7 linked regions of the Homo sapiens genome follow. The gene in region 3 interacts genetically with the main gene of each other region. Each region holds a gene or a part of one and is shown on either strand. Other genes may lie near its edges.

Region 1 (3,967 bases), on a different chromosome or scaffold from region 3:
GTCTTGCTGGAGTGCAGTGGTACAGTCTTGGCTCACTGCAATCTCTGTCTCCTGGGCTCAAGCCATCCTCCCACCTTAGCCTCCCAAGTAGCTAGGACTACAGGCATGTGCCACCATGCCCAGCTAATTTTTGTATTTTTAGTAGAGATGGGGTTTCGCCATGTTGCCCAGGCTGGTCTTGAACTCCTGACCTTAAGTGATTTGCCTGCCTTGGCCTCCCAGAGTGCTGGGATTACAGCCGTGAGCCACTGCATCTGCCCCCATGCCCGTCTTAAAACTGGGAATAACCCCTCTTCCTTTTACTTCTGAGAGTTTTCTTTGATTAAACTGCCTCCTGCATCATTAGTTTTCACATTTCTTTTTTTTGAGATGGAGTCTCGCTCTGTTGCCCGGGCTGGAGTGCAGTGGCGCTGCAAGCTCCGCCTCCTGGGTTCATGCCATTCTCCTGCCTCTGCCTCCCAAGTAGCTGGGACTACAGGCGCCTGCCACCATGCCCGGCTAATTTTTTATATTTTTAGTAGAGATGGGGTTTCACCGTGTTAGCCACGATGGTCTCAATCTCCTGACCTTGTGATCTGCCCGCCTCGGCCTCCCAAAGTGCTGGGATTACAGGCGTGAGCCACCACGCCCGGCCTTCACATTTCTTGTTCAGATTTGCAGCTCTTCACTTAGTGCATGTTTGGTGTACGCAAACTGAGGGTGGTGACTCGATATTTTGCACAGTACCTACTTACTGCTCCTGTAATAAACACAGCATTCAGCCTTGCTAACTACTAACTCCTGCCTAGTTCCAGGATGTCTCATTGGCCTTGCCTAACAGCCACAGGTTTTTTAATTAAATCCAGTGTATTAGTAGATAATGTGAAGTCACAGGTTGTGCCCTTCCTCCTGTTTCCCTCTCAGACCATTCACTGGGGAGTGCAAATAAGGCTGCACAGTAATCCCCCGAAGGGCTTGCTGGGCTCCACCCCCAGTGTTCCTGGTTTAGTAGGTCTAGGGTGGGCCTGAGAATTTGCCTAACAAGTTTCCAGGTGCAGCTGCTGCTGGTAGTTTGGGGACCACACTTGAAGAACCACGGGGCTAGGTAACAGAAGCTTATGCTGTTCTCTCGTCATGTTCCCTGTTCTTCAGGTAGGGAAGACATATGAGCTACTCAACTGTGACAAGCACAAGTCTATATTGTTGAAGAATGGACGGGACCCTGGGGAAGCGCGGCCAGATATCACCCACCAGGTAACTCCAGGGACAGTGCTCACAACCCTTTGAGCCTCTGTATGGAAGGGTTGGCAGCTGAGTGCTGCCTCTCTTCAGCCTTAACCATGTCTCGGTTTCTGCTTTGCTCAGAGTTTGCTGATGCTGATGGATAGTCCCCTGAACCGAGCTGGCTTGCTACAGGTTTATATCCATACACAGAAGAATGTTCTGATTGAAGTGAATCCCCAGACCCGAATTCCCAGAACCTTTGACCGCTTTTGTGGCCTCATGGGTAAGAAGCCTTAGAACAAAGTTAGAATGAACTTGTCAGTAGGGAAGAAGGGAGGAAGAGGAAAAGGGAGAACTAAATGTGGATTTTTAAGCGAGAAAATGGGAGAACAACATGATTAATACCAGGACAAGGACTGTTATTATTTTTCTATGTTTGTGGAAACTCCACTCCTGTTCTTGCAGTAGCTTCCTGGCTGAGTGAAAGAGGGAGTCTGAACCCATCACTGTACAGCTAGCCATATGCTTGGCAACTGTTTGTTCCTAACATTTCAGGAGTCCAGTCTAGATATAAAGCACACAGGGAACTCATCTTATCCATGGGGTTTTCCTTGTTCGATGACTGGACAGAAGGACTGTGGTCTCCATCTAGCTCTGAACTCTTTTTTCCCCCTTCTAGTTCAACTTTTACACAAGCTCAGTGTTCGAGCAGCTGATGGCCCCCAGAAGCTTTTGAAGGTGAGGTATTGAAACCTGTTAGTTGAAGGCTGGTTCTGGGAATGTTTCTGGGGCTGACTTTTCTCTCTTTTTTACTTTAGGTAATTAAGAATCCAGTATCAGATCACTTTCCAGTTGGATGTATGAAAGTTGGCACTTCTTTTTCCATCCCGGTTGTCAGTGATGTGCGTGAGCTGGTGCCCAGCAGTGATCCTATTGTTTTTGTGGTAGGGGCCTTTGCCCATGGCAAGGTAAGGTCTGGGCTCAACCCTGAAATTCTTGGTAGAGCTGAACTTAGTATAGAATTCCCAGAGCAGTAGGCATTTTAACAATGCTTACAATGAGCTAGAAGACACATGACAGTTCCACACCCTGCCCCAGGGCACATCCTTTGAGGGCTGCTGCCATAATTGGAAGTCACAGTTAGGACCTTCTTCATCCTTTGTAGGGATTTGATATTCAACAGCACAGCTGAAATACTAGCTCAGCCATAGTTTTCCTGCCCTAAAGAAGGGCTGAAACAGCTACTGAGTGACAGAGTTGGCTGACAAAACTGTTCTTTTCTTAGGTCAGTGTGGAGTATACAGAGAAGATGGTGTCCATCAGTAACTACCCCCTTTCTGCTGCCCTCACCTGTGCAAAACTTACCACAGCCTTTGAGGAAGTATGGGGGGTCATTTGACAGTAGTAGAACCTGTTCTGAAACCAGAAACTGTTGATGTCACATCCTTTGACCCTGGTCTGAGCTGACTGCTGGAAGATGATCTTTCTGCACTGAGACTGTGGAGTTTGGGGAAGCCAAGGCTGTACATTTGCTATTTGTTTATCCTATGAATACTGTTCTTGCAAACCTGGTTGTTTTGGGGTTCCTAAAGTATCCAGTGGTGTAAAACTGTTTGTTCCCCGGGACTTCAGGGACAGATAGGAGGTTACAGAGTTTGCAGTTTGGTTCCATGCTTTGAAGGCAGGCTTTAGCTCCCAGATTCCCATGTGCTAAAGGAGAGAACCCTGATGATGGAGAAGAACTGTGAAAGAGAGCAGTCAGGAATGCTAGTGGTGAAAAACTGAACAAACAGAAGTGATTTTATCTAATACAGTTCCAAGGTAGAAAAAGTGGAGCAGGCAGGGCCTTGCACCCCTCTCCACCCCCCCATGGGGGGGGTGGTGGTAGCGGCACATACACAATCATAGTAAATTGGCAGAAGAAAAACACAATAGATTCCTGGCTAGATGGGGAGAGATAAGGCAATGTGCATGGGGGAATCAGAGGGGAGATGTGAGCCCCTCTGCTCCTCCCACAAGAGTTTCCCCTTTGGGCCGGGCACGGTGGCTCACGCCTGTAATCCCAGCACTTTGGGAGGCGGAGGCGGGTGGATCACTTGCGGTCAGGAGTTCGAGACCAGCCTGGCCAACGTGGTGAAATCCCGTTTCTACTGAAAATACAAAAATTAGCTGGGCATGGTGGCGTGCCTGTATTCCCAGCTACTTGGGAGGCTGAGGCAGGAAAATCACTTGAACCCAGGAGGTGGAGGTTGCGGTGAGCTGAGATCCCGCCACTGCATTCCAGCGTGGGTGACAAAGCAAGACGCCTTCTCCAAAAAAAAGTTTCCCCTTTGGCCCCAAATGAAGACTTGGCTGGCAGCAGAGGCACAGCTGGAAGCATCGATCTTCCACCTCCCTGGCTTTTCCATTCTCTGCTCTGGGGCAAAGGAGTGCTGTGAAAAGGGAGACGAGTAGTTTCTGCACCAGTCCCGCACAGGCCACCTGCAAGACAAGAGGAGTTTGGAAGGCTGGTTAGTTACTCCTGTAATTCCTGGTCTATAGCCCTTCCAGATGTTTCCTAGCATGCCTCAATAAGTCACAGTAGTCATTGCCCATACTGTGTTCCTTAGTAGCCAGGCTAATCCTTGGAATTCACCCCAGATTTCTAATACTATTGTTTTTTTCCAGTCTGTTGCTCTATTCTGTAACCTGGTGGTAGTTTTAGTTTAGCTGTATTAACTTACCAGGGAAATGGATTATTCCATCTTCTTTAACTTCTCTTTCC
Region 2 (4,205 bases), on a different chromosome or scaffold from region 3:
CTTAAAAATACATTACCTTTCAGGTGGTGTAAGTCAGTTTGGACAGAAGGCACACTGAAAAATGCTTAAGTATTATTTGTTCTTTATAATTTCTTGTTTAGATTTTAAGACCTTTATCCTAAAGAATGTCACTCCTTTCTTCTTAGTGTACCTCGGTATGATCAACCACCTCCTGTCACATACCAGCCACAGCAAACTGAAAGAAATCAGTCCCTTCTGGTACCTGCAAATCCATATCATACTGCAGAAATTCCTGACTGGCTTCAGGTTTACGCACGAGCCCCTGTGAAGTAAGTACATTTACAACACAAATTTGTTTGAGGAGTGAGTGAAGGGCTGAATGGAGTCTCTGGGCTGCTCGATCCAAGTAGTGTGCCATATTTTACTCTTAATAATATTCGGCTTCTAAGTAATACGTGACTTGAATAAAGGATGTCATAGTTTATAATGTGTGAAAATCATTAATTAGAAATATTAGTTCTTCAGACATTTATAGAATCTTCATTTCTTTGTGTGCGGGCCTCTGCTATTAGGGATACAAGTAAGAAACTTACATTCTCATAGGAGAAGATTAATTTGTAAATAAGTGATACAGTACTTGTGATAAAAGTAAGGACCTGGGCTTGGCACAGTGGCTCACACCTGTAATCCCAGCACTTCGGGAGGCTGAGGCAGGAGGATCTCTTAAGTCCAGGAGTTCGAGACCAGTCTAGGCAACATAACGAGAGCCCCATTTCCACAGAAAAATTTTAAAAATTAGCCAGGCTTTTTGCATGGTCTGTAGTCCCAAGTACTTGGGAGGCTGAGGTGGGAGGATAGCTTGATCTGAGGAGTTCAAGTTCAGCCTGAGCAACATAGCAGGACTCTGTCTCTATAAAAAATTTAAAAATTAGCAGCATGCTGTGGTGTATGCCTGTGATCTCAGCTACTTGGGAGGCTAAGGTGGGAGGACTGCTTGAGCCCAGGAGTTTGAGGCCGCAGTGAGCTATGCTTGTGCCACTGCACTCCAGCCTGGGTGACAGAGCATGAGAGACCCTGACTGCCCCCCTACTAGTGCCAGAAAAAGGAATGATAGCAGATGGCATTTTCTTTCCTATTTTCCTCTTTTCTTTGTCCCTTGATACCACCTGACCTACAGCTGTATGTTTGTATGCTGATTCTAAATAGTACATAATATCTGTATGCGTTTTTATTTTCCTTAAATCTGGAAGAATATGTGCCTAACTGTTAACCTTAGTATTTCTGGGGGTGGATATGGTTGAGGAGAGTTATTCTTTCTGTTGTATGTTATTTCTACTCTATAGTCATGTTTAATAAGAAATAGCATAATCTTTCCTTTTTGGGGGAAGAGATAGTACTTAAATGGAATTCCTGGTTTCTTACAGAAAGAAACAGATTCCTGAAGATTATAGTCTTTTTGAATTCTGTGGTTCTGTGAGCTAACTATAAAACTCAAGGAAACTAGCAAATAGGTTGTAATTCTTCCAAAATGGGCCAGACTGACAAAAAGGGAGCAAGTACTATACTTCTTTACTGCTTAAAAACTTAAACAAGAGGTCTGGAAGCCTGTTGCTTTCTAGTTGATTCTAATTAATGTTGCTGAAGAGGATGGAAATGGTTAATATTCTATCAACAAAGGGTGAGTGGTTATCTATGAATTAGATAATGAGAATCAATTATCACAACAAAAAGAGACATTTTTGCAAAAAAAATTTGCATGTTTCTTCCTTTTGTTTTTCAGACAATTGAGAATCTGAAATTCTTTAATCCTGAAATTCTTTAATCCTATCTCTCACAGTAATTTACCAACACAATTTTTGCATATACTTCTAAAACTTGATTTAGAAACAGACTGTGTTTTAAATTTGTATTTAATTTTTGTAAAGTTATGTTCCTGTGTCTGCTCACAAAAGTCTATAATGCTTGGTATAACTGTACTCAAGCTGAACTATAGGATAAAATTTTAAAAGTTAGGCCGGGTGCGGCGGCTCATGCCTGTAATCCCAGCCCTTTGGGAGGCTGAGGCGAGTGGATCACAAGGTCGAGAGATCGAGACCATCCTGGCTAACACAGTGAAACTCTGTATCTACTAAAAATACAAAAAATTAGCTGGGTATGGTGGCACGCGCCTGTAGTCCCAGCTACTCGGGAGGCTGAGGCAGGAGAATCATTTGAACCCGGGAGGCGGAGGTTGCAGTGAGCCAAGATTGCGCCATTGCACTCCAGCCTGGGTGACAGAGCGAGACTCCATCTCAAAATAAAATATAATAAAATAAAATTTAATCTTTGACAGCAAAAACATTGTCAAGAACATATTTACTTTCTGTTATTTCTCACACACACACCAAAACACTAGTCCTCAGCAGTGTGTGGCAGGGGTATTTTTTATTCCAGTGGCTTGGCAGTCCTGCAGTGTCACCATTGACCCTGCTCTGGATACAGGTGAAAAAGAGGGAGGAGTGGACACAGTGTTATGGCGGGTGGGTGCAGGGGACTTAGGCTACATGGTGATACCTGGAGCTGAGGATAGCAGCACTGTTGATCTTGAAGTCAGCATGCAGTGTGGACAGGTTATTTTTGGTAGCATTATAGCAACTGGCATTTGTATATATGGCTTATTTATAAGTAGTATTTGAATAGAATACTGCCCTAGGAAAAACAGAGTGAAAGAGATGCTAGAAGCATGGACTACTGGAGTGTTTTACACCCAATTTTCGGAATGATTTACCTGTGTATATACAGTATAAATGACTAAAAGTTAAACTTGTGGAAGCAAATTTCTTGGCTAGTTAAGAAGGAAAGAATGGGAGTTTATACTTTTCAGAAAAAGAAGGAACACTTAGGTGATTATAGGCAGAAGGGTAGTAACTATGTAGAAGCAACAGAGGAAAGAATTTGGAATAGGATTTCCATTCCATGCTTTGCAGTTTTTTCACATCTGTGCCCTTCTTGGAGTGCACTTTCTTCCCCCAGAAGGATTTTCTCTAATCTGATTTTGTTGCTTCTACCCATAATCGTACTCTTGATGCTGAATGCTGATTGGCAAGTCAGAAACTTGGCCAGGCATGGTGGTGCACCTGTAATCCAAGCTACTTGAGAGGCAGAGTCAGGATTGTTAGAGCTTAGGAGTTCTGGGCTGTGATGCACTATGCCAGTCGGATGTCTGTACTCTTTGGCATCAGTATGGTGACCTCCCAGGAGCAGGGACCACCAGGTTGCCTAAGGAGGGGCGAACTGGCCCAGGTTGGAAAGGGAGCAGGTTAATACTACTGTGCCGATCAGTAGTGGCATTGTGCTTGTGATTAGCCACTGCACTTCAGCCTGGGAGACATAGGAGATCTTCATCTCTTAAAAAAAAAAAAAAAAAAAAAAAAACTGACAAAATTGTTTGAAGATTTTTTCTTCCTTTAGACAAAACTTGAATACTTATACAGAATGATATTCGTGTCTTAAAAATAAGTATAATATTTACCATCTTATTTTTGTTCTTTGTTTTCCTTGCTAGAAAGTACACAGATGATAGATTAGTTTAACATTGTTGTAGTTCACCTGGTATAAATGGTAACCATCTTGACTTAGTAGACATTGCTGAATTGCCTCTTAGCTAACTCTGGGAGATTAAGATTTTTTGTTAGGAATTATGAATTTGTTTCCAAGGAGCACATAAAATCTTAAGTTACAAGAATGGTGGATGTTCTAAGAAATACCTTATAACTGTTTCTTCATGGAGGCTCATTGAGTATTTCTTACAGTATCACTCTAATTTATGTTCACAAGTGGTTGGAGTTTCCCATTAAAAAGAACAGAGCTTCCTACCAAAGAAATCTAAATCTATTAATAAATTTGCAGCTCTCAAGTAACTGAGTGAAATTGGCAGTCCAATTAAATATATTTACCTTCCAGTTTTTGCATGTTGTATTACTGACATTTCTGTTACACATACTCAAGTTGAATAGAAACATGTCAAAATGCCAAGTATAGTGGCTCACACTAACTGCTCGGTATGTTTTCTATCTCCCTTTTTTAAAATCTCATTTTAAAATATTAGACAGTCCTTTTGAAAGAAAATGGTATAATATCAAAGAACCACTGGGTAGGAAATACTATAAACGATCATTAAAAATAATGCTAGAGTTTGCAATCAAAGCTTCCTATTATGTCTGCTCTGCAGTATGATTTGAGAGGTATAATTTCGGGTATAACAT
Region 3 (4,205 bases):
TGTGAGCTTGGTTTTGGTATTCCTGTGTTATGGAAGGAGATAGGTGGATCGGCTGCCTGGGTGATGCGAAGAAGTGGAGAGTCAGGGGTGTGAAGCCACGTCTGCCTGACACCAAAGCCCAATAGACCATGCTTCTCTCTTAGACCCAGCTGAGGCTTTGGCTAGCCGGACAGTGAGGACGAGCACCAGAGGAGAGTTCAGACGGGGAGGGGGAGATGGAGTTGGGTGGGCCCCACTCACGGATGCTGCTTAGTTCACGATGTGGCCTGCGCCTTACTGAGGCTTGCTCTAATGCGCTGGAGGGTTTAATAATGCGATCTGGGACACAGGGAGGCCAGGCTGGCATGTGACAGAACACAGTGACATGAGATGCTCATTAGAGGGACTCTTCCCAATGGAAGCACAGACTGCAATTTGTACCTGAATGACAAGGTAGCGCTGGGGGTCTCGGGCCATTTTGGAGAATTCGATGATCAACTCACGGAACTTTGGGCGACTATCTGCGTCTATCATCCAGCCTGGGGAAGGAATGAGAAAAAACAGTGCAATTAGAACACTGGAAGAAATGATAAAGATGGCATTGCTTAAAGAAGGCATTGGTGATGCGACACTTCCAGTCAAATAAGTGATGAAAGAACCAAGTCTTTGTGGTAGACTTTTCTGTCTTGGCCAGCTAGTACTGGTTACTGTTTAAAGACCATGCCAGCACTGTACATTTGAATCAGAATAACAATAATGCCCTCTAGTTTTTCTACGCCCACTCTTCCTGGGGTCAGCATCCTGTGTTACGCCTGAGGGGATGGAGCAGTGTGGGTCTGTACAATTGCTCTCCATGAACTATCCTGACTGCAGGGTGCCCTGCACCAAGGTCCTCACTCAACATCCACCCTTAGCATTCCTTCAGGTAGGAAACCAGATGCAACTTAGAAAAATAGGCTTTAAAGAATTTGGGGTTGGGACTGGGCCCCTACCCCCGGCGTCTCCAGTACAGCACATACCCAGTGGGCATGCATGCAAGTGAGAAGGCTGGTGGGCATGCATGCAAGTGAGAGGGCTGGCTGTGCTGGCAACTTCCACAGGAGGACACACTGTTAACTGTGCTGCTGCATGTGACTACCCAACAATCTAAATCCAGATTAAACAATTTGGAGGTATGGCTACTGCCTGGAAATCCTCATGCCTCTTGAGGGATCACATTTATTTTCCATCCACAGCATATCAAGCTATTTTAGGCCAGACTGCTATGTGACCTTAGACAAATCACGTGGCTTCTCTGGATCACAGCTTCCTTAGCCCAAACCAAGGAAGTTAAAAAAGATCAACTCTGTGGCCTAGAGTTCAGAAAGGCATTAATATTTACATTAACTTGGCTCTGTCATATTCCCTATACAACTTTCTTTTGCAAATGCTCATCCCATGCATGTAATGCTACCTCCAGAGCCCACTGCACTCGTGAATCTGGTAGAATAATAGCATCAATCAAATTACACACTCTTATTTAGATTGAAATGTTTAAATGCCACACTGCAGAGACTTCACATAAATCCACTGGTTTAAAAGGTTTAAGTCAAAGCAGAAATGTTGACTCTATTAGCCTTATGTTGTTACTCACTGCCATGCATTTAAAAACATTCAGTCTCTCTGGTAACAGGCTTCAAAATATAGGGCAACTCGGTATTTCATTGAGTAACTCAGCGAATAGAATATTTTGGTGTAATGGCTTGCGGAAGACTTTAGTTTTATTTATTTGCTTGCAAACATGGGCAAATGTCAGGTCATACTGCCCAATGAGTCAAGAAGTGTCTTTAAAAGAATGCTTGAAGGGGTATTTACAGATGTTTCTGGATTTGTGTGCCTGCCTTAAGTAATGTGATGACATTTCTCCAGGGATGCAAAGGCCTCAGCTGTTTGGCTAAGAGCAGCCACCAAGGCTCAGCTAGGCAGTGTGGACAGACCCACCAGTCACTCACACTTGACCATGATCATGTAGACATCGATGGTACATATGGGTGGCTGAGGGAGGCGTTCTCCTTTCTCCAGGATGGAGGAGATCTCGCTGGCAGGGATTCCGTCATATGGCTTGGATCCAAAGGTCATCAACTCCCAAACAGTCACCCCTGAGAGGATGAAGCAAGAAAAGAAGGCAGTGGGATCATGAATGAACAATCACAATCCCTTGCTTTAGTCATCATTACTGGTTACTGTTTCTTGATGTTTAGAAACCTACATTTCTGTAGTCTTGGGCAATTTGCTTCAATGCTGGAAGCCTCAGTCTACCTCTCTATAAAGTGGGGTAATAGCAGTATCTGTTTCACAGGATTGCTGTAAGGACCCAACAAGATAATACAACTGAAATGCTTAGTGCAATGCCCAGCAAGTAGTAAGTGACTGATAAGTGGTAAACTTTGGTAATTAACAATAAAGACAACAGTAACTCTACTAGCATAAGTATTATGCTCCAGACAGGATACACACTCAGTCACCTGCTCTGAGGGACCTGTATCTGCAGAATGAGGAAGATGCAGATTCTGAACAGGGCTGTAAACTGCACATTTTTAGATCATAAAAAAATTGGAAATGAAAAAGCTTAAGTTCCATTTGATAAAAATAAAAACCTCAGGAAGAAACTGAATCCCTGAACAGACCAATAATGAGCTCCAAAATTGAATCAGTAATAAATAGCCTACCAACCAAAACAAAGCCTAAGACTAGATGGATTCATAGCCAAATTCTACAAGATGTACAAAAAAAGCTGGTACCATTCCTACTGAAACTATTCCAAAAAAATTGAGAAGGAGGGACTCTTCCTTAACTCATTCTATGAGGCCAATGTCATCCTGATACCAAAGCTTGGCAGAGATACAACAAAAAAAGAAAACTTCAGGCCAATATCTCTGATGAACATAGACATAAAAATCCTCAACAAAATACTGGCAAATCGAATCCAGCAGCACATCAAAAAGCTTAAGCCACCACAATCAAGTCGGCTTCATCCCTGGGATGCAAGATTGGTTCAACATATGCAAATCAATAAATGTGATTCACCACACAAACAGAACTAAGGACAAAAGCCACATGATCATCTCAATAGATGCAGAAAAGGCTCTCAATAAAATTCAACATGTTTAAAATTCTCAATAAACTAGGTATTTAAAGAACAAACCTCAACATATTAGCCATCTATGGCAAACCCACAGCCAACATCATATTGAATGGGCAAAAGTTGAAAACATTCCCCTTGAAAATTGACACAAGACAAGGATTCCCTCTCTCAACACTCCTATTTAACATAGTATTGGAAGTCCTGGCCAGATAAATCAGGTGAGAGAAAGAAATAATGGACATCCAAACAGGAAGAGAGGAAAACAGCTATCTCTGTTTGCAGATGACATGATCCTATATCTAGAAAACCCCATAGTCTTGACCCAAAACCCCTTAAGCTGATAAACAACTTCAGTGAAGACTCAGTTGTACAAAATCAATGTACAAAAATAATTAGCATTCCAATATGCCAACAACAGTCAAGCTGAGAACCAAATCAGGAATGCAATTCAATTCACAATTGCCACAAAAAGAATAAAATACCTAGAAATACAGTAAACCAGGAAAGTGAAAGATCTCTACAATAAGAACCACAAAACACTGCTTAAAGAAATCAGAGATGACACAAACAAATGGAAAAACATTCCATGCTCATGGATAGAAAGAATCAATATCATTAAAATGACTATACTGCCCAAAGTATTTTATAGATTCAATGTTACTCCTATCACACTACCAATGAGATTCTTCACAGAACTAGAAAATACAATTTAAAAATTCACATGGAACCAAAAAAGAGCCTGAATTGCCAAGGCAATCCTAAGCAAAAAGAACAAAGCTGGAAGCATGATGCTACCTGACTTTAAACTACAGGGATACAGTAACCAAAACAGCATGGTACTAGTACAGAAACAGACATACAGACCAATGAAACAGAATAGAGAGCCCAGAAATAAGGCTGCACACCTACAACCATGTGATCGTTGACAAAGTTGACAAAAAAAAAAAAGCAATGAATAAAGGACTCCCTACTCAATAAATGATGACTAGCTAGCCATGAAGAAGATTGAAACTGGACTCCTTCCTTACACCATACACAAAAATAAACTCAACATGGATTAAAGACTTAAATGTAAAACCCCAAACTATAAAAACCCTGGAAG
Region 4 (4,205 bases), on a different chromosome or scaffold from region 3:
ATGATACTTAGTATATGCCAGTGACTATTCACACTCAGTTTTTGACACAATTTATATTCTGGGGAATAATTGGATTGGTTCACACATAATTAGGCTGAAGCTTAATTACAACAATGATCTCTGTAAGTGTGGCCTTTGTAATTTTATCTTTAATCAGGAATAAACCTGACCCTGGTGGAAAAAATGTACAAATAAAAAGTTCCATAATTTTGCATCACAAGTAACTCGTTACTGTTTTAGAAAATTTTCTTCAAGTAATTTTCCTTAATTTTATAATGTAGATTTTAAATTACAATAAAATTGAACTATTGAAGGTGTTTTGAAGTTTTTAAATTAATGCTTAACGTTAATACTTTTTGCTTTAAATTGGAGACTTAAATCCATTTTTAAAGGAAAATGTTAAGCAACCCATAAGTTAAATTGTCAAATATTATCAAAGTTAAAATATTACCAAATAGTTTTTGCAACCAAGTGAGACTATAGAAATTTTCTGACTCCCAGATGTAGATATCAGCTCTTTATAAAGCTAGTTGAGTGGGATTTCTCCTCTGCAAAGCTATTAAGGTTTTGTTAAACCCTAGTAGCTTTATGGGTGCTGTCTAAATGTCTAAGCAGTTTTTCCAAAAATGATTTACACACTTAATATCAGTAAACATATACTTAATGCCAAAATAATTTTGGAAGAGCTGCTCTATTATGGACTTGGGTTTACTTTTATCAGGCTTTTAAACAAATTCAAAGTATGAATGTTTGTTGTGTTCCTCTTTTCTATTTTCAGGTCACGCACGTTGAACCATGGGAGAAAGGAAGCAGGAAAACAGCGGGCCAGACAGGGATGTGCGGAGGGGTAAGTAGAAGTACGTGCATTTTTCAGTTTTTCTGTGTCTAATAACTAAGTTTATATTTAGAGAACTAGAGGCCTGTCAATTATACACTTGAGTGACAATTTTTTTAATCCAAATTCAAGTGTTCAGTGAAATAGGGTTAGAAAAGTGTTACTTTTTAATGCTCCTTAGTTCTGGATTATGGATTGTTATTGATACCTAACAGGATTAATCAATTGGTGTTAAGAGTCCGTTAATTATTTTACTACTTTTTCTTAACTCGTTTCCCCTAAAGGTTCGAGGTGTTGGAACAGGAGGAATTGTTTCTACAGCATTTTGCCTGTTATACAAATTATTTACCCTGAAGTTAACTCGAAAGCAAGTGATGGGTCTTATAACACACACAGACTCTCCATATATTAGAGCGCTTGGATTTATGTATATAAGGTGAGCGTACATTTATGTACATTTCCAGTAAATATCTCATTTTAATTCACATGTGTTTAATAATAGTCTTTTGTAATTCTAGATATACACAGCCCCCTACAGATCTGTGGGACTGGTTTGAATCCTTCCTTGATGATGAAGAGGTATGTCAACAAGGGTAATAATTTGTTTTCTTCTGATTACTCTCATATTTTTATTATCTTTTATTTATTGGTGGTTTAATGTCTTCAAGAACTTCCTGTAGTTAAATTTATTTCAGTGAGATACTTTTGGAATTAATGTCCTTTTACTGAGACCTGATGGCTTTTATGTATTTTAGGGTAAATTTCTGAAGTTTTATTTTCTTGTTTTAAAATTGTTTAAATGTGTTTGGTAACTATTGGAAAATTTTCTCTTCTTAATTATGTTCTGTGTATTGTATTGATCCTGAATTGTATAGTTAATAGTGACTTTTCAAGATGGGGCATGCTCAAGATCGAACAGATAATAAAAGATATGCACATAGAATACTAATTGTAGCTTTTTTTTCTTCTGGAACATTTCAGTTCTTCACCCTCTAGCTTCTTCCAAATATCAGTATTCCCACTTGCATAGAAGTGCAGAATTGAAGAGTTGGGTGTTACATAAATAGGCTAAGTGTTTGGATGACTTGTTCAAGGTGACAAAATTTTAATTCCAGTTTTCTGACTCCTAGTACACCACACACACCTTTAAAAAAGAAATTTTTTAAATTGTAATTCGAGTCTCCCTAATTTGAAATCTGAAATACTAAGTTAGATTTAAATCGTGTATGCATTGGCTGGGCGTGGTGGCTCACATTGTAATCCCAACACTTCGAGAGTTCAAGACCAGCCTGAGCAATATAGTGAGACCTCATCTCTACAAAAAAAAGTTTAAAAATTAGCTGAGCATAGAGGTATGCATCTTAGTCCCACCTACTTGGGAGGCTGGGGTGGGAGGATCACTTGAGCCCAGGAGACAGAATTTGCTGTGAGCCAAGATCATTGCCACTGCATTCCAGCCTGGGTAACACAGTAAGACCCTTTCTCAAAACAAAACAAAATATCATATATGCATTAATTTACTTGCATGGTGAAGTCCAACATGTCAAAAATGAAATGATGAGCTGTATTGTCCCTATGTCTACCCAGTCTACTACTTTGTGTTTTAAGGTTCATAAGACTTTTTGAGTGCTATGTGTCAGTAGTCTATTTACAGAGTTCATCCAAAGAATTTATTGAATTAAAGGATGGTTCTAATGGAAATCTATTGTGTTTTGTTATTACATGCACACCTAAAAAAAAAAAAAATCTCATTTAGACATGGAGAATTTTTATTTTTCTCTTTTTTTTTTTTTTTTTTTTTGCCTGTTAACTGAGTTACTTCACTCAGAAGAAGCAAAACGTGTTTTAAATCACAATCTTTAAGGTCTTTTTATCTTTAGATCAGTTTTTCAGACTGAAGTGCTTCTCCCTTCTGTCTTTAAAAAAGCATGTTCCTCTTCATAATTGGTGTTGTATTGGTTTTGTTTCTGGATGCCTCTATTTTATGTTTTTTATTGTGTTTACAAATCTGAGGTCCTCTATTTAAGCTAACTTATTGTTTTCTTCCTTAGATATCTGCAGCGATTATATTTGGAAATACTGTATATCTGAACACTTAAATGTGTGTGAGTGCAAGCAGTTTTACCTTTAGCTCTTGTTTTCCTGTTTAGATAACAAATCTCACTTTCCTTGTGTGCTTGCACTATAGGTTTGGGACTGACAATAGCTGACTAACATGTCCTGAGCTGTGAGAGGGCATAGCAAGAAGGCCTTCATGCGGTAATGACCCTTTTCAGAGACAATGGTCATCATGGATTATGCGTTTCCAATTATTTGTTCATTTATTTATTTTCTACATAACTAAATTAGAAACCTCACTGCTTCATGGCAGTTGGTTTGCTATTGCTTCCAGTTTTATTAGGGCTTCATTTTATATTAGAGCTGTTAAAAGATAACCTTTAGACAGGAATTATCTAAAGTAGATCATATGTAGCTAGGTTATGGTGCAAGGTATATGATGTGTGCAAATATGTCCACAGAAATAAATACATAGTAGGTATGTGGAATGTAAATTTAAGTCAATCGTTCCGCATAGTTTAGAAATGTAAGGGGCTTTTTCATATTGTTAACTGAGTGAGATCAGTTCCCTTTATGCCTGTGAGGCTGCAGGGTTTGTTCTCACTTGCATGCACACACTAAGCCCAAATATTTCTGTTCATTCATTGTCAGATCAGGATATGAAAATAAAATTTTTCTGTTAGTTTTTTTTGTATTGAGATTCCAAAGATGGTAATATTTTTATAATATTCATGTATATATGGAAATACTTTTTTTGACGGCTAGGGTATCTTTTGTGTTTCTGTAGGACCTAGATGTGAAGGCTGGTGGAGGCTGTGTAATGACCATTGGAGAAATGCTACGATCTTTTCTCACAAAACTGGAGTGGTTTTCTACCTTGTTTCCAAGAATTCCAGTTCCAGTTCAAAAGAATATTGATCAACAGATTAAAACCCGACCTAGAAAAATCAAGAAAGATGGGAAGGAAGGTGCTGAGGAAATAGACAGACATGTTGAACGCAGACGTTCAAGGTAATGTCACTCTTGAATTATGCTTATTTTTCATATATGCTTTATACAAAATTAATGGTTCTGAGAAATAGCAAGTTCTTAGGAATTTGTTTTTACTGTTCATTTTATTAGTTTGTCACTTTTACCCCCCAAAGATTATTTTCTTCCTTTCAGGGCTTTTTCTATAAAATTATGCATCTGTAAATGAGAACAATAAAATTTTTTGCTTTAATGATTCTTGACATGGCCTTAAGCTTGAGGACATGAATAAATAATGCTGTTGAAAGTTTTACTGTGAAAAGAATTGCATATGTTTTATTCA
Region 5 (4,205 bases), about 53 Mb from region 3:
TTTGAGCTTGTGGGAAGGAGTACCCAATTTGTGTAAAAGTTGAGCTTTTTATTGCAGCCTTATAAATTCAGATCAGGCTTGTCAGGCTATTTAATTGTATGGTAAGTGCTTTAGAAGTTACCCTAGGATTTGACTAGTTTCCATAGCAGGGTGTCCGGCACTGCAGTGACTGGCAACTGCCTTTTTCCCTTTTTTTTTCTCTTGTTCGTCTCAATTTTAGCATCGTTGAAAATAAAACGGCGATTATTTTTTAAGGCAGTATTTTCAATATTTCCTTTTTTTTTTTGAGACAGAGTCTCATTCTCTTGCTCAGACTGGAGTGCAATGGCTCACCGCAGCCTCTGCCTCCCCGCTTCAAGCGATTTTCCTGCCTCAGCCTCCCAAGTAGCTGGGATTATAAGCATGTGCCACCATGCCTGGCTACTTTTTGTATTTTTAATACAGATGGGGTTTTGCCTTGTTGGCCAGGCTGGTCTCGAACTCCTGGCCTCATGTGATTTGCCTTCCTTGGCTTCCAAAAATGCTGGGATTACAGGCGTGAGCCACCATGCTGGGTCAGTTTTCAATATTTCCGAAAGTGTTTTTTTGAGACGGAGTCTTGCTCTGTCGCTGGAGTGAGCCACCATGCCCAGCCAACTTTTGAGAATAAATACAGTAAAGAATATTTTCGGACATCTGCATATTTAGTATGTTGGAATTATCATTATTATTATTATTTGAGATGGAGTCTCACTCTGTCTCCCAGGCTGGAGTGCAGTGGCATGATCTTGGCTCACTGCAACCTCCATCTCCTGGGTTCAAGCGATTCTCCTGCCCCAGCCTCTCCAGTAGCTGGAATTACAGGCACCCACCACCATGCTTGGATCATTTTTCTCGTATTTTTATTAGGGACAGGTTTCACCATGTTGGCCAGGCTGGTCTTGAACTCCTGGCCTCAGGTAATCTGCCTGCCTCGGCCTCCCAAAATGCTGGGATTACAGGCGTGAGCCACTGAGCCTGGCCGTGTTCTAAATTCTGACACGTGATGCTTTCCAGCAGCCCTGCGAGGCATTTCATCACATCAAGAACAGCTTCACCTACCACTAAGAAAAAAATACTGTTATTTAATCTCAGTGGGGGTGGCAGCTCCCACCTGTAGTCCCTGCTACTTGGGAGGCTGAGGCAGGAGGATTGCTAGAGCCCAGGAGTTCCAGGCTAGCCTGGGCAGCATAACAAGACCCTGTCTCTTTACAAAGAAAAAAAAAAGTTGTTTCAGGAGCTTGTATATTCTCCAGTCTCCTAGTTTAAGTGCCGGTCTCTGCCCTGATAGTGTTTTTCAAAAAGGCTCTTTGTGATATAATTAAGAAATGTGTATTTGGGCTCTGCCTGGCTCTTGGCACTCAGCGTCTAAACCCTTGTAATTTCCAAAGTGGTAAGTGTCTTTTTGTAGACGAGGACTTGATTGATGGCTGGGGCTCCTTGCCAGGGAACCAACCACGTGATTAGAGGGTGGGACCTTTTAGGTCTCCCCCTGCCACCCAGAAGGAAGAGGGCTGAAAGTTGAGTTGATCACCGGTGCTCAGTGATGTCATTAATCACGCCTCTATAATGAGATCTTCATAGAAACCCAAAAGGACCAGGTTCAGGGGCTCCATGCAGCGGAACAGGTGGAGGCTTCTGCAGGGTGGTGGCCTGGAGAGCACAGGGAGGCTCTGCGCTTCTCCTCCATCTGCCTTTTCGTCTATATCCTCTGTAACGTCCGTTATAATAAGCTGGCAAACCTAGCTCTCTGAATTCTGTAAGCTGCTGCAGTAAATTAATGGAACCCAAGAAGCGAGGGATAGTGGGAGCCCTGCTTTGTAGCCTGTCGGTCAGAACCGGAGGTGACAGCCCACTACTTGCGACTGCCATCTGAAATGGGGGCCAGTCTTTGGGGCTGAGCCTTCAGCCTGTGGGATCTGATGCTAATTCCTGGTAGATAGTGTCTGAATTGGATTAAGTTAGAGGACACCCAGCTGGTGGCCCCTGGAGAACTGCTTGATGCGACACCCACGTCCGGTGTCAGGCGTTGTGTTGAGTGTTACGTGAGTAGGAAAGACACTGTCACATCCCTGTCTCCTGCAGTTCAGTTGTTTATCCTTAGAGCTTTTTAACCTAAGGAATATTGGGTAAAGATTGTTCTGAACGAAGGTGCGTGGTGGTGGGCTCTGCAGCGGAGAGAGGTGGGGAAGCTCACCCCAGACGCGCTTCCTCTTTGGGTTTTTTCCCCATCCCCTGTGAATGGCCATCCAGTTCACGGCCTGAAAACATGAAAATCACTGGGAACAGGAGGTGGGAGAAGAGTTACTACTTTCATCCCAGTTCACTCGAGAGAGGGTTCCTCCTTGAATAATTTCTGGTAATTTGTATTCACAGCACAAATGTGCTGTGAATATATTGAGCATTTAAATATTTACTTGTTTGCTAAAATCTTCTGTAAAAAGTCAGTTTTCATTGACATTGGGATGGGATTCTGCCTGCCTAGATGTTGCAACAAACCTTTCAAAATCTAGGCATCTCTGGAAGATCTAATAGTGGATATTCTTGAGATGGTCTTCTTCATTTGCATTGTGCATTGTTAAAAGCTTTTCACTGTTATTCTCCTGTAGTCTTTGGTTATTACCAGAACTTAATTGACCTGTCTTGACTGTTTACATTTCCATCAAAGGGAGAGAGGAGAGTTCCAGTCCCCCCAGCTGTCATGTTTAAAATCTGAAACAAGCTAGGGTTAGGATTTCTTTTGCTCACAGTGAAAGCATTTAGACAATTCATTGTCTCTTCTTGAAGACTTGTTTAGTGTGCTCAGTTAATGTATTAATGTTTTTCTTGGTAAAAATGATCATTTGAAAAATCTCTCTTGTTCAGAATTACTGGGAGATGTACTCAAAGATCGGCCCCAGGAAGCAGATGGAATCGATTCGGTGATTGTAGTGGACAATGTCCCTCAGGTGGGACCCGACCGACTTGAGAAACTCAAAAATGTCATCCACAAGATCTTTTCCAAGTTTGGGAAAATCACAAATGATTTTTATCCTGAAGAGGATGGGAAGACAAAAGGGTGAGTGTTCTCCTGTTGGAGAAGTATCATCTGTGTCTGGCACGTCATGATGAGGGAGTGTTGCAGGAGATCCTTACTAACACAGCTCCTGCCTTGCCCAGGCACGTGGGCCGTTCACTTCTTCAGGCCGCCCTCAGCTGGAAGCTATCCAGAGCAGTGAATGAGAAGATGATAAAGTTTGTTTTTTTAAGTTAAGGTTTTAAAGTTTTTAAAATTATCTAGAATAGGCCAGCATGGTGGCTTATGCATAAACTCCCAACACTCTTGAAGCCTGAGGCCAGGAGTTGGAGGCTGCAGTGAGCTATGATAACGTAGCTGTACTCCAGTCTGGGTGACAGAGCAAGACTCTGTCTCTAAAATAAATAAATAAAGTAAAAACTAACTAGAATAGTTTTAGTTTCTAGAATTATCAAATACAGGTAATGCTGCTGCATTTTCTGTGTTGGGCAGTCAGTTGAAGGATGGCCTCTTGACCCTCAGTTACTCGTGTTATAATGAAACATTCTCTGAGGTTCTTTCTTTCTTTCTTTTTTTTGAGTCGGAGTCTCGCTCTGTCGCCCAGGCTGGAGTGCAGTGTCGCAATCTCGGCTCACTGAAAGCTCCGCCTCCCAGGTTCACACTATTCTCCCGCCTCAGCCTCCCTAGTAGCTGGGACTACTGGCGCCCGCTACCACGCCCGGCTAATTTTTTGTATTTTTAGTAGAGACGGGGTTTCACCATGTTAGCCAGAATGGTCTCGATCTCCTGACCTTGTGATCCACCCGCCTCGGCCTCCCAAAGTGCTGGGATTACAGGCCTGAGCCACCGCGCCCGGCCTCTCTGAGCTTCTTTCTAATCTTGCCTGTAATACACAATATTAGACTACTTTTAAGTTTTTTTTGTTTGTTTGTTTGTTTGAGACAGTCTCACTCTTGCCCAGGCTGGAGTGCAGTGGTGTGATCTCAGCTCACTGCAACCTCCGCCTCCCGGGTTCAAGCAATTCTCCTGCCCCACCCTCCCAAGTAGCCGGGATTACAGGCGCACACTACCACGCCTGGCTTGCTTGCTTGCTTATTTATTTATTTATTTATTTATTGAGACAGAGTCTTGCTCTGTCACCCAGGCTGGAGTGCAGTGGCACGATCTTGGC
Region 6 (4,693 bases), on a different chromosome or scaffold from region 3:
GGATGCACAGAACCTGCTCTAAGACTATCTCCCGTCCATCCAGTCTATCAGCACATGATTTTCTATTACTCAAGGACTGCTTCACAGGAGTGGGGGTTTGAAGATAAGTTCTGGATATAAACTGAACCTTCTGTCATTCCAACAATAAGGTGGCCCAGTGAGAAAATCAACTAAGGTGGTTTGGCTAGGAGCAGCCTTTGGAAGTGTTGTTAGAAAAGATTTGCAAGAGTCTTACTTTATTCATAAATCGTAACTTTGACTAGTGTTGATGAACCAGTATTGGTCACATTTGCCAATTTGTGGGGAGTTGGCATGGAAAATATGGTGGAAAATTCCGGCTGTGATGTTAAAGGTAACCATTGAACACTTGCACAAACTCAGTTGAAGAAGTTGTGGTCTTGTCAGTTTGAGCTGAGTTCAGGACTGAATCTTGAGGTCCTGAAAAACAACTTAGCCAGCACCTTGTGACCTATACTTCACAGTCAGATGTTACGTATAGTAGCATTGTAGAAACTATGGCCAGGCTATGTGACATTTTAATAGTAAGCAGTACAGTGTCACCAAACAGCTAAAGGTTATAATTAAAAAACTGAGTAGAGAAATTTCAGATACTGGCTACCTAATCATTCATAGCTATTTGGCCACTGTGTTCACTAGATATTCTTTCACCTCTCAATGAAGGTCTCACAATTCACAACATTAAAAGTGATTTTCTGGCCTGACCAAGTGGCTCATGCCTGTAATCCCAGCACTTTTAGAGGCTGATGTGTTGAGGCTTAGCTAGGCTCAGGAGTTCAAGACCAACCTGGCCAACATGGTGAAACCCTGTCTCTACAAAAATTAATACAAAAAACTAGCCAGGCATGGTGTTGCATGCCTATAGTCCCAGCTACTCAAGAGGCTGAGGTGGGAGGATTGCTTGAGCCTGGCAGGTTGAGACTGCAGGGAGCAGTGTTTGTGCGACTGCACTCCAGCCTGGGCGACAGAGCAAGACCCTGTCAAAAAAAAAAAAAAGGCAAAAGACCAGGCACAGCGAGTCACACCTGTAATCCCAGCACTTTGGGAGGCTGAGGCAGGCAGATCATGAGGTCAGGAGATCGAGACCATCCTGGCTAACACGGTGAAACCCCGTCTCTACTAAAAATACAAAAAATTAGCTGGGCGTGGTGACAGGCGCCTATAGTCCCAGCTACTCAGGAGGTTGAGGCAAGAGAATGGGGTGAACCCGGGAGGCGGAGCTTGCAGTGAGCCGAGATCTCGCCACTGCACTCCAGCCTGGGCAACAGAGCGAGACTCCATCTCAAAAAAAAAAAAAAGGTGGCTTTCCTCAGTGAAGTTCCCATGTAACATAGCATAACCCTCCAGGGACTTCCCCAGAAGTTTGTTAGAATTGAGAGCAGAGCTAAGTCTCTGGTTGTCTCCTGATAGCACCAGATAACCCTTTTCTGGGGTCACCTAGGGTCTTGCAATCATTTTGTACCCAGGGCTCAGCCTTTGATGTTTGTAGCCTTTGCTCGAGGCTACTGTTTGAGTGAGCCCAAGTGTTCCAGATGAAACGATACAGGGACAAGTTCACATAATAAGGCTGTTCCCCATCACCACCTCGGCTACCAATCAGCTGGAGCCCTGCAGCTCCCCCTACTATTCCTTTCTCCACTGCTGTAGATTTCCAGGGCTCTGAGAAAAGGAGGAGGACGCAGACTCTGCTCTTCAGATCCACATGCTGATCCCCACTACAATCAGTGACCTGAACTCAGAGTCCAAGTAGGGTAAGAAGGGCTCTGCTGAGGTTGCTCGGGGGACAGCCAGGAACACTGGAAGGAGGCTGATTGAACTTTTAGATAGCAAACAATGGAGAAGGATCCAAATCATGGAAAACAAAGGTCTGAATTCTGGTTAGCCTCAGTCCCACTGATACAGGCTTTTCCCTGCCCCTCCCTTCCTTCACCGCCAGTCCTCCTAAGCACAGTGCATTAAAGCTGCTTGCATCCTACTCTTCTATCTTGTGTAGGCCTTTATCACCAGGACAGGGTTCCACAGATGAGGAACCCTGTGCCTGATGTGGGCATTTGACATCTTTAGAAGTGCTCTCACATGCTTGCATCTCATTAGACTCTTGCAGGTCTGTAGGGAGCTGTGATTAGGCCTATCTGAGGACACCGATACTCAGAGCTATGAATCAGGCTAGAGGTTCAGTAGGGCCAGGAATACTCCTCATGGCAAATGAGGACAGATAGCTGGTAAAGAGATAACTTTTTCAAACGACCATACATCCTATGCTGTGACCACAGTAGCTCTGCGGGGGACTGTTTTAGTTTTGGTGCCTGATTGATTACAGCAACAGTTCTAAACTGATGTCCTTTTATGATGGCATTGTCAATAAGCTCTAACAAATGAAGATCATTTGTAATAGCAGTAATTAGGGAAATGGCCTCTGAGAAGGGATGCCGATAGTTAATAATGATCACATGTTTCACCCAGACTTTGGGGAAAGTGTTATAAGGAAGTCAAGGTTGGAAAAACATCATTTTTCAGAGAAGTGCAATTGCAGCCTGGGCTGTGGTTTCCAGAATCAATGCCTTCTGCCTAGGAACCACCTCCCAAGTAGTTACTCATCTTCTACATTCCCTTAAAATGCAACAATCTTTTCCACTTTGCAGACAATACGCTTAAAATGTCATTTTTCTATTGGACACATGATCTCCTGAGAGCTTATTTGGTAAAAGAGAGCTCGATAGTGATTGGCTCCTCAAATTGGGTAGAAGACAGGGTAGACAGGAGATATTTGAAATTCTCAAAAGGTACTTTATCTATATTTTCCAAATTTGTGTTAGCTCTCACAGGCTAAAGCATATTTTTAGTTCTTAGAAACTGTATTCTTTTTTTTTTTTTTTTTTGAGACGGAGTTTTGCTTTTGTCACCCAGGCCGGAGTGCAGAGGTGTGATGTCGGCTCACCGCAACCTCCGCCTCCCAGGTTCAAGCGATTCTCCTGCCTCAGCCTCTCGAGTAGCTGGGTCTACAGCCACCATGTCCAGCTACTTTTTGTATTTTAGTAGAGATGGGGTTTCACCATGTTGGCCACGGTGTTTCTCGAACTCCTGACCTCAGGTGATACACCCACCTTGGCCTCCCAAACTGCTGGGATTACGGGTATAAGCCACTGTGCCCAGCCCAGAAACTGTATTCTTTAATGAGAATCATCATCTTCTAATATGGAACCAAATAGCAATATAGTGCCCAAGTACCTGCTTGGCAGGGAAAGGAATTTTAAGGTGGAGCTCAGCTCTCTGAGTATAGTCTGGTTAATGCTTTTCTTTCTCTTCCCTGTAGACACGCAGGTGGACGTGGTGACTGAGATGACATCCTCTCTAAAGATTTGGGGCATACTCTTGGCCCTGCTTTGCATCCTTTGCAGGCTGTGTGTATACAGTAACAACATTTACTGGAGAGAATTCATAAAACTTCATTACTTAAGTCCAAGTCGAGAATTCAAAGAGTACAAATGTGATGTCCTCATGAGAGAAAAAGAGGCTCTGAAAGGCAAGAGCTTTCATATGTTCATCTATAGCTTATGGTTCAAAATTCAGCGTGCATGCATCAATGAGAAGGGGAGCGACCGATATAGAAATGCATATGTATGGGCCCCAGGTGCCCTCAAAGTACTCGAGTGTCACTGGGAGAAGTACAACAATAGGTACACAGAGAGCAGAAGCTTCAGCTACATTGAATTCCATTGTGGCGTAGATGGATATGTTGATAACATAGAAGACCTGAGGATTATAGAACCTATCAGCAACTAGAAAGTCTATGCACATCCTCAGATATTGGTAGAGTATTCAGTGCTTCCAAAGTGGTGGGCCCTGCCTCCATCAATAGCCCCTGCCACTCCCCGCTTACATTTATGTGTCAGTGTTTTCCAACTACTTAGAGTTTATGTACCTCGTGATTTCTTGATACCAAATCTTTGTGTGGTTTCTGTATCTGTAATACAATTTTGTCCTAATTTGCCTAATTTACACCCACATTTTTTCCAAGATTCAGCTCATATGGCATCTGTCCTCGACTAACCTAAGACTTTCCTGATATTGACTCTCTTTATACCTACCCAAGCTGAACGACCCTCCTTTTCTTAAATAAAATATATTATTCTAACGTATGTGACGCTTATATATGTTATGTGTGCAGAGTATGTATCGTGTGATTGGTATGGGTATCGGTGATCTAGGCTATTTTTGCCTATGGCTGTGCAAGGGGTTTAATGTGCACTTTATGTGTCTGTGTCTAATGTATGTGATATGTTTATGTATATCATGTGGATATAAATGATTGTGTGCTAAACTGGAGACAAGTAGTGATGTAAGCACTCATCGTGGTAGCAATTTGAAATAATCAAAAGGGTCAAAATCCAGTTTTAAGGAGTGGGCTGGGCACTGTGACTCATGCCCATAATTTCAGCACTTTGGGAGGCTGAAACAGGTGGGTCACCTGAGGTCAGGAGTTTGAGACCAGCCTGGCCAACATGGTAAGGCCCTGTCTCTACTAAAAGTACAAAAATTTGCCAGGCTTGGTGGCACATACCTGTAGTTCTAGCTATGGGAGGCTGAGGCAGGAGAATCTCCTGAACCTGGGAGGCAGAAGTTGCAGTGAGCCGAGATCACGCCACTGCACTCCAGCCTGGATGACAGAGCAAGA
Region 7 (3,538 bases), on a different chromosome or scaffold from region 3:
GCTGGGATTACAGGCGTGAGCCACCGCGCCTGGCCCTGTGTCCCCTCCTATCCGTCTCCCAGTCAGGGGCCCGGTGCTGTGGCCCCGCTGACCCCTCCCCTGCCTCCTCAGCCCCAGGATGGGTGAGTTCAACGAGAAGAAGACAACATGTGGCACCGTTTGCCTCAAGTACCTGCTGTTTACCTACAATTGCTGCTTCTGGGTGAGGAGGGGTCGCCTTGCCCCCACCCCCACCCCCACCCCTCCCGGGCCACCATCAGACCTGGGCAGATGCGATGACCTTTGTGTACTGCTTGTAGCTGGCTGGCCTGGCTGTCATGGCAGTGGGCATCTGGACGCTGGCCCTCAAGAGTGACTACATCAGCCTGCTGGCCTCAGGCACCTACCTGGCCACAGCCTACATCCTGGTGGTGGCGGGCACTGTCGTCATGGTGACTGGGGTCTTGGGCTGCTGCGCCACCTTCAAGGAGCGTCGGAACCTGCTGCGCCTGGTCAGGAGGGCGCAGGGCCACGGGGTGGGGGTGGTGCAGATGGGCCCAAGGAGGTTGTCGCTGCAGGCTTTGAACCTGTGCCTTGCTGTGCTCACCTGGGGGGGGGGTCACGGTCCTTCCACACCTGCCTAGTCCTGTGGGTCCCCACGTTCCTGCTGGACCAGCTGAGGGAAGACACCAGCTCCGCAAGAAAGCTTCAGGGAGGGTGGCCGCCCCTCAGCCCCCACCTGGAGCCTGGGGAGCCGGGGTGGGGACTCTGCTCTGAGGTGCACTAGGTCTAGGCACTAGGCCTCAGAACAAGGGTGCCCTTGTGCTGCCCCCCCCAGTACTTCATCCTGCTCCTCATCATCTTTCTGCTGGAGATCATCGCTGGTATCCTCGCCTACGCCTACTACCAGCAGGTGAGGGGCCTGGGCAGGCCATTCAGAGACACAGACATGCACAGGCGGGGCGGACACACACACATGCACACGCGTGGCTAGCCCCAACCCCCACCCCCATGGTCCCAGAGCTAACCAATGTGCCACTGGGCCCTGGAGATGGGGTCTAGGTCTCTGCAGGGGCACATGGGGTCAGGCAGGTGTCCAGGGGATCCAGAAGCTCTCTCTGCCTCTGCCGCACTTCATTGTCACCCTGGTGACGGTCCTGGCACCACCCAACCTCCCCTCATGCCGAGGTGTGACCTCAGCCCTTCCCTGTGGCTCTGAGCTGGGCCCCGGGCCTCCCCACCGGCCATCCTGGGGCTCTGCCAGCCCCACCTTGGAAGGTCTTAGACTGAGGCTGAAGTTTCCTGCACCCCAACCCCAGCTGAACACGGAGCTCAAGGAGAACCTGAAGGACACCATGACCAAGCGCTACCACCAGCCGGGCCATGAGGCTGTGACCAGCGCTGTGGACCAGCTGCAGCAGGAGGTGGGTGGGTGGTGCTGGGAGGGCGCGTGCATCCCCAGGGCCTCCCTGGACCTCTGCAGGAGCCTCTGGCCCCAGGTCTCAACCCCAGCCTTGTTCTTGATGCAGTTCCACTGCTGTGGCAGCAACAACTCACAGGACTGGCGAGACAGTGAGTGGATCCGCTCACAGGAGGCCGGTGGCCGTGTGGTCCCAGACAGCTGCTGCAAGACGGTGGTGGCTCTTTGTGGGCAGCGAGACCATGCCTCCAACATCTACAAGGTGGAGGTGGGTGTGCAGCGGGATCATGCCTCCAGTGTCTACGAGGTGGTGGGGGGGCACCCCAGTGACTGGCTGTGGGCAGTGGGACACGCCTCCAATATCTACCAGGAGGTGGGGGGTCACCCCAGTGGCCGGATGTGGGCAGTGAGACCACACCTCCAATATCTACGAGGAAGTGGGTGGGCAGCCCAGTGGCTGGCTGAGCTGTTGGTGGCCTGGCTGCCTAGGTGCTAGGGGTGGGTTTGGCCACACCCTGGAGGCTGGAGGCAGTAGGGGCCAGTGGGAGGTGCCCCCTGGGCCCGCCTTCAACACCCATCCGCGCCCCGCAGGGCGGCTGCATCACCAAGTTGGAGACCTTCATCCAGGAGCACCTGAGGGTCATTGGGGCTGTGGGGATCGGCATTGCCTGTGTGCAGGTGAGGGCACATGGGGGTGGCGGTCATCTTGTTGGGGACACGGGGCAGGGCGGTGGCTGGTGGCCCCATGACGTCTGCTTACGCCCACCCGGCTCTGCACACAGGTCTTTGGCATGATCTTCACGTGCTGCCTGTACAGGAGTCTCAAGCTGGAGCACTACTGACCCTGCCTTGGGCCTTGCTGCTGCTGCACCCAACTACTGAGCTGAGACCACTGAGTACCAGGGGCTGGGCTCCCTGATGACACCCACCCTGTGCCATCACCATAACCTCTGGGGACCCCAACCTCAGAGGCAGCTTCAAGTGCCTTTTGCTGCGCACCAATGCCCAGCAGGGGAGGTGAGGGGGGCTGGCGGGGCGAAGTTTGGGGGGTGTTTTGTGGGGCTCCCCAGACACACTCTCTGCCTGGTGGTCAGATGCAGGTTGGAAGGGGCCTTGCTGAGTGGCGCAAGGCCGAGCGTTCCCAGCAGGGGGAGAAACCCTTCACACCCCAGGCCCTTCAGGAACTGGGGCCTTGCCTTGCAGCCACATGGCCCCATCCCAGTTGGGGAAGCCAGGTGAGCTCTGACCCTTGGGCCTGGGCCTCTGCCCCTCCCAACCCAGCCCTCGTCTCCCTCGACAGCGCCCCTGCTGTCTTCCCCACCGCAGTCACCACCACCCGAAATGCCACGTGGTCACTGTGCACTGCCCTGTTCATGTGCCTCTGCGGGGCAGGGCCTTCCTGGTTTTGTTCACTGCTGTACCCAGATGCCTACAACCATCCCTGCCACATACAGGTGCTCAATAAACACTTGTAGAGCAGATGGACGAGCTCGCTGTGCTGGTAACAGATGGTGGTCTGTTCTCAGGGCCCTCGCATCCAGCAGGGCAGACAGACCCACCCCCGCCCCGCCCAGTGTCAGGACAAAGAAGGGCAGAGCCAGGAGGACACACCCCCCATGGGGCTCCAGGGAAGGGAGGTCTGATGCCAGGGACAGCTGAGCACAGGCCTCAGCAGAAAGAACTGAACATGTTCCTAAATGGTGAGATGGTGTGTTCAGAGCCCCTGGGGGAGAGGAAAAATGGTTTCCAAAACCCTTCTGGCCATGGTGGGGAGCAGACGTGGGAAGGGTGCAGACTGGGGGCCGTGCCCAGGTAAGAGGTGTCAGGCAGGTGGGGTGGGGGCAGTAGGGTGAGGGGGTTTACATGGAGGAGCCTATAGGCCCTGCTGGGGGCCAGAGGGTAGGAGGTACCAGAGCCTGGTGTCTGGCAGAGGTACCCTGGAGATGGGAGCCAGGGCTCGGTCACTGATTGTGCCCCCCACTGCCCAGGTTCCTGTCCTTAAGGCTCAGAACTGTAGACCCTCAGGCAGACCCGTTCTCCCCTACCAGAGGACACCACGCCAGATATCTGGGCAGCAGGGACATCTGACCTGGGGTGCTTGCTGGCAGCACTGCCTGGACAGCAGGGCCTCCTTAGGGC

The links.
Region 1: changes in EGFR (region 3) and EMG1 together harm fitness more than expected from each alone (negative genetic interaction), as found in Homo sapiens cells (one large-scale study listed by BioGRID).
Region 2: changes in EGFR (region 3) and SAV1 together harm fitness less than expected from each alone (positive genetic interaction), as found in Homo sapiens cells (one large-scale study listed by BioGRID).
Region 4: changes in EGFR (region 3) and PRPF38B together harm fitness more than expected from each alone (negative genetic interaction), as found in Homo sapiens cells (one large-scale study listed by BioGRID).
Region 5: changes in EGFR (region 3) and EIF3B together harm fitness more than expected from each alone (negative genetic interaction), as found in Homo sapiens cells (one large-scale study listed by BioGRID).
Region 6: changes in EGFR (region 3) and EDDM3A together harm fitness less than expected from each alone (positive genetic interaction), as found in Homo sapiens cells (one large-scale study listed by BioGRID).
Region 7: changes in EGFR (region 3) and CD151 together harm fitness more than expected from each alone (negative genetic interaction), as found in Homo sapiens cells (one large-scale study listed by BioGRID).

The regions. Positions count from the first base shown.
Region 1 is NC_000012.12:6,973,208-6,977,174, forward strand, and holds part of EMG1 (ribosomal RNA small subunit methyltransferase NEP1), read left to right. Parts: intron 1-1,131; coding exon 1,132-1,233; intron 1,234-1,344; coding exon 1,345-1,486; intron 1,487-1,882; coding exon 1,883-1,941; intron 1,942-2,021; coding exon 2,022-2,171; intron 2,172-2,488; coding exon 2,489-2,602; 3' UTR 2,603-3,938; coding exon of another isoform or gene 3,939-3,967. Other genes in the region: LPCAT3 (lysophospholipid acyltransferase 5), read right to left, coding at 3,939-3,967. UniProt on the Homo sapiens protein: S-adenosyl-L-methionine-dependent pseudouridine N(1)-methyltransferase that methylates pseudouridine at position 1248 (Psi1248) in 18S rRNA.
Region 2 is NC_000014.9:50,636,835-50,641,039, reverse strand, and holds part of SAV1 (protein salvador homolog 1), read left to right. Parts: intron 1-146; coding exon 147-290; intron 291-4,205. UniProt on the Homo sapiens protein: Regulator of STK3/MST2 and STK4/MST1 in the Hippo signaling pathway which plays a pivotal role in organ size control and tumor suppression by restricting proliferation and promoting apoptosis.
Region 3 is NC_000007.14:55,196,629-55,200,833, reverse strand, and holds part of EGFR (epidermal growth factor receptor isoform a precursor), read right to left. Parts: intron 2,118-4,205; coding exon 1,971-2,117; intron 519-1,970; coding exon 421-518; intron 1-420. UniProt on the Homo sapiens protein: Receptor tyrosine kinase binding ligands of the EGF family and activating several signaling cascades to convert extracellular cues into appropriate cellular responses.
Region 4 is NC_000001.11:108,694,924-108,699,128, forward strand, and holds part of PRPF38B (pre-mRNA-splicing factor 38B), read left to right. Parts: intron 1-778; coding exon 779-847; exon of another isoform or gene 848-857; intron 858-1,119; coding exon 1,120-1,271; intron 1,272-1,353; coding exon 1,354-1,414; coding exon of another isoform or gene 1,415-1,428; intron 1,429-2,637; exon of another isoform or gene 2,638-2,886; coding exon of another isoform or gene 2,887-2,926; exon of another isoform or gene 2,927-2,934; coding exon of another isoform or gene 2,935-2,940; exon of another isoform or gene 2,941-3,094; intron 3,095-3,680; coding exon 3,681-3,904; intron 3,905-4,205. UniProt on the Homo sapiens protein: May be required for pre-mRNA splicing.
Region 5 is NC_000007.14:2,357,827-2,362,031, forward strand, and holds part of EIF3B (eukaryotic translation initiation factor 3 subunit B), read left to right. Parts: intron 1-2,883; coding exon 2,884-3,076; intron 3,077-4,205.
Region 6 is NC_000014.9:20,744,224-20,748,916, forward strand, and holds EDDM3A (epididymal secretory protein E3-alpha precursor), read left to right. Parts: upstream 1-1,663; 5' UTR 1,664-1,769; intron 1,770-3,331; 5' UTR 3,332-3,357; coding exon 3,358-3,801; 3' UTR 3,802-4,157; downstream 4,158-4,693. UniProt on the Homo sapiens protein: Possible function in sperm maturation.
Region 7 is NC_000011.10:835,952-839,489, forward strand, and holds the end of CD151 (CD151 antigen), read left to right. Parts: intron 1-111; 5' UTR 112-118; coding exon 119-202; intron 203-299; coding exon 300-491; intron 492-817; coding exon 818-892; intron 893-1,298; coding exon 1,299-1,403; intron 1,404-1,508; coding exon 1,509-1,667; intron 1,668-1,990; coding exon 1,991-2,077; intron 2,078-2,181; coding exon 2,182-2,241; 3' UTR 2,242-2,880; downstream 2,881-3,538. UniProt on the Homo sapiens protein: Structural component of specialized membrane microdomains known as tetraspanin-enriched microdomains (TERMs), which act as platforms for receptor clustering and signaling.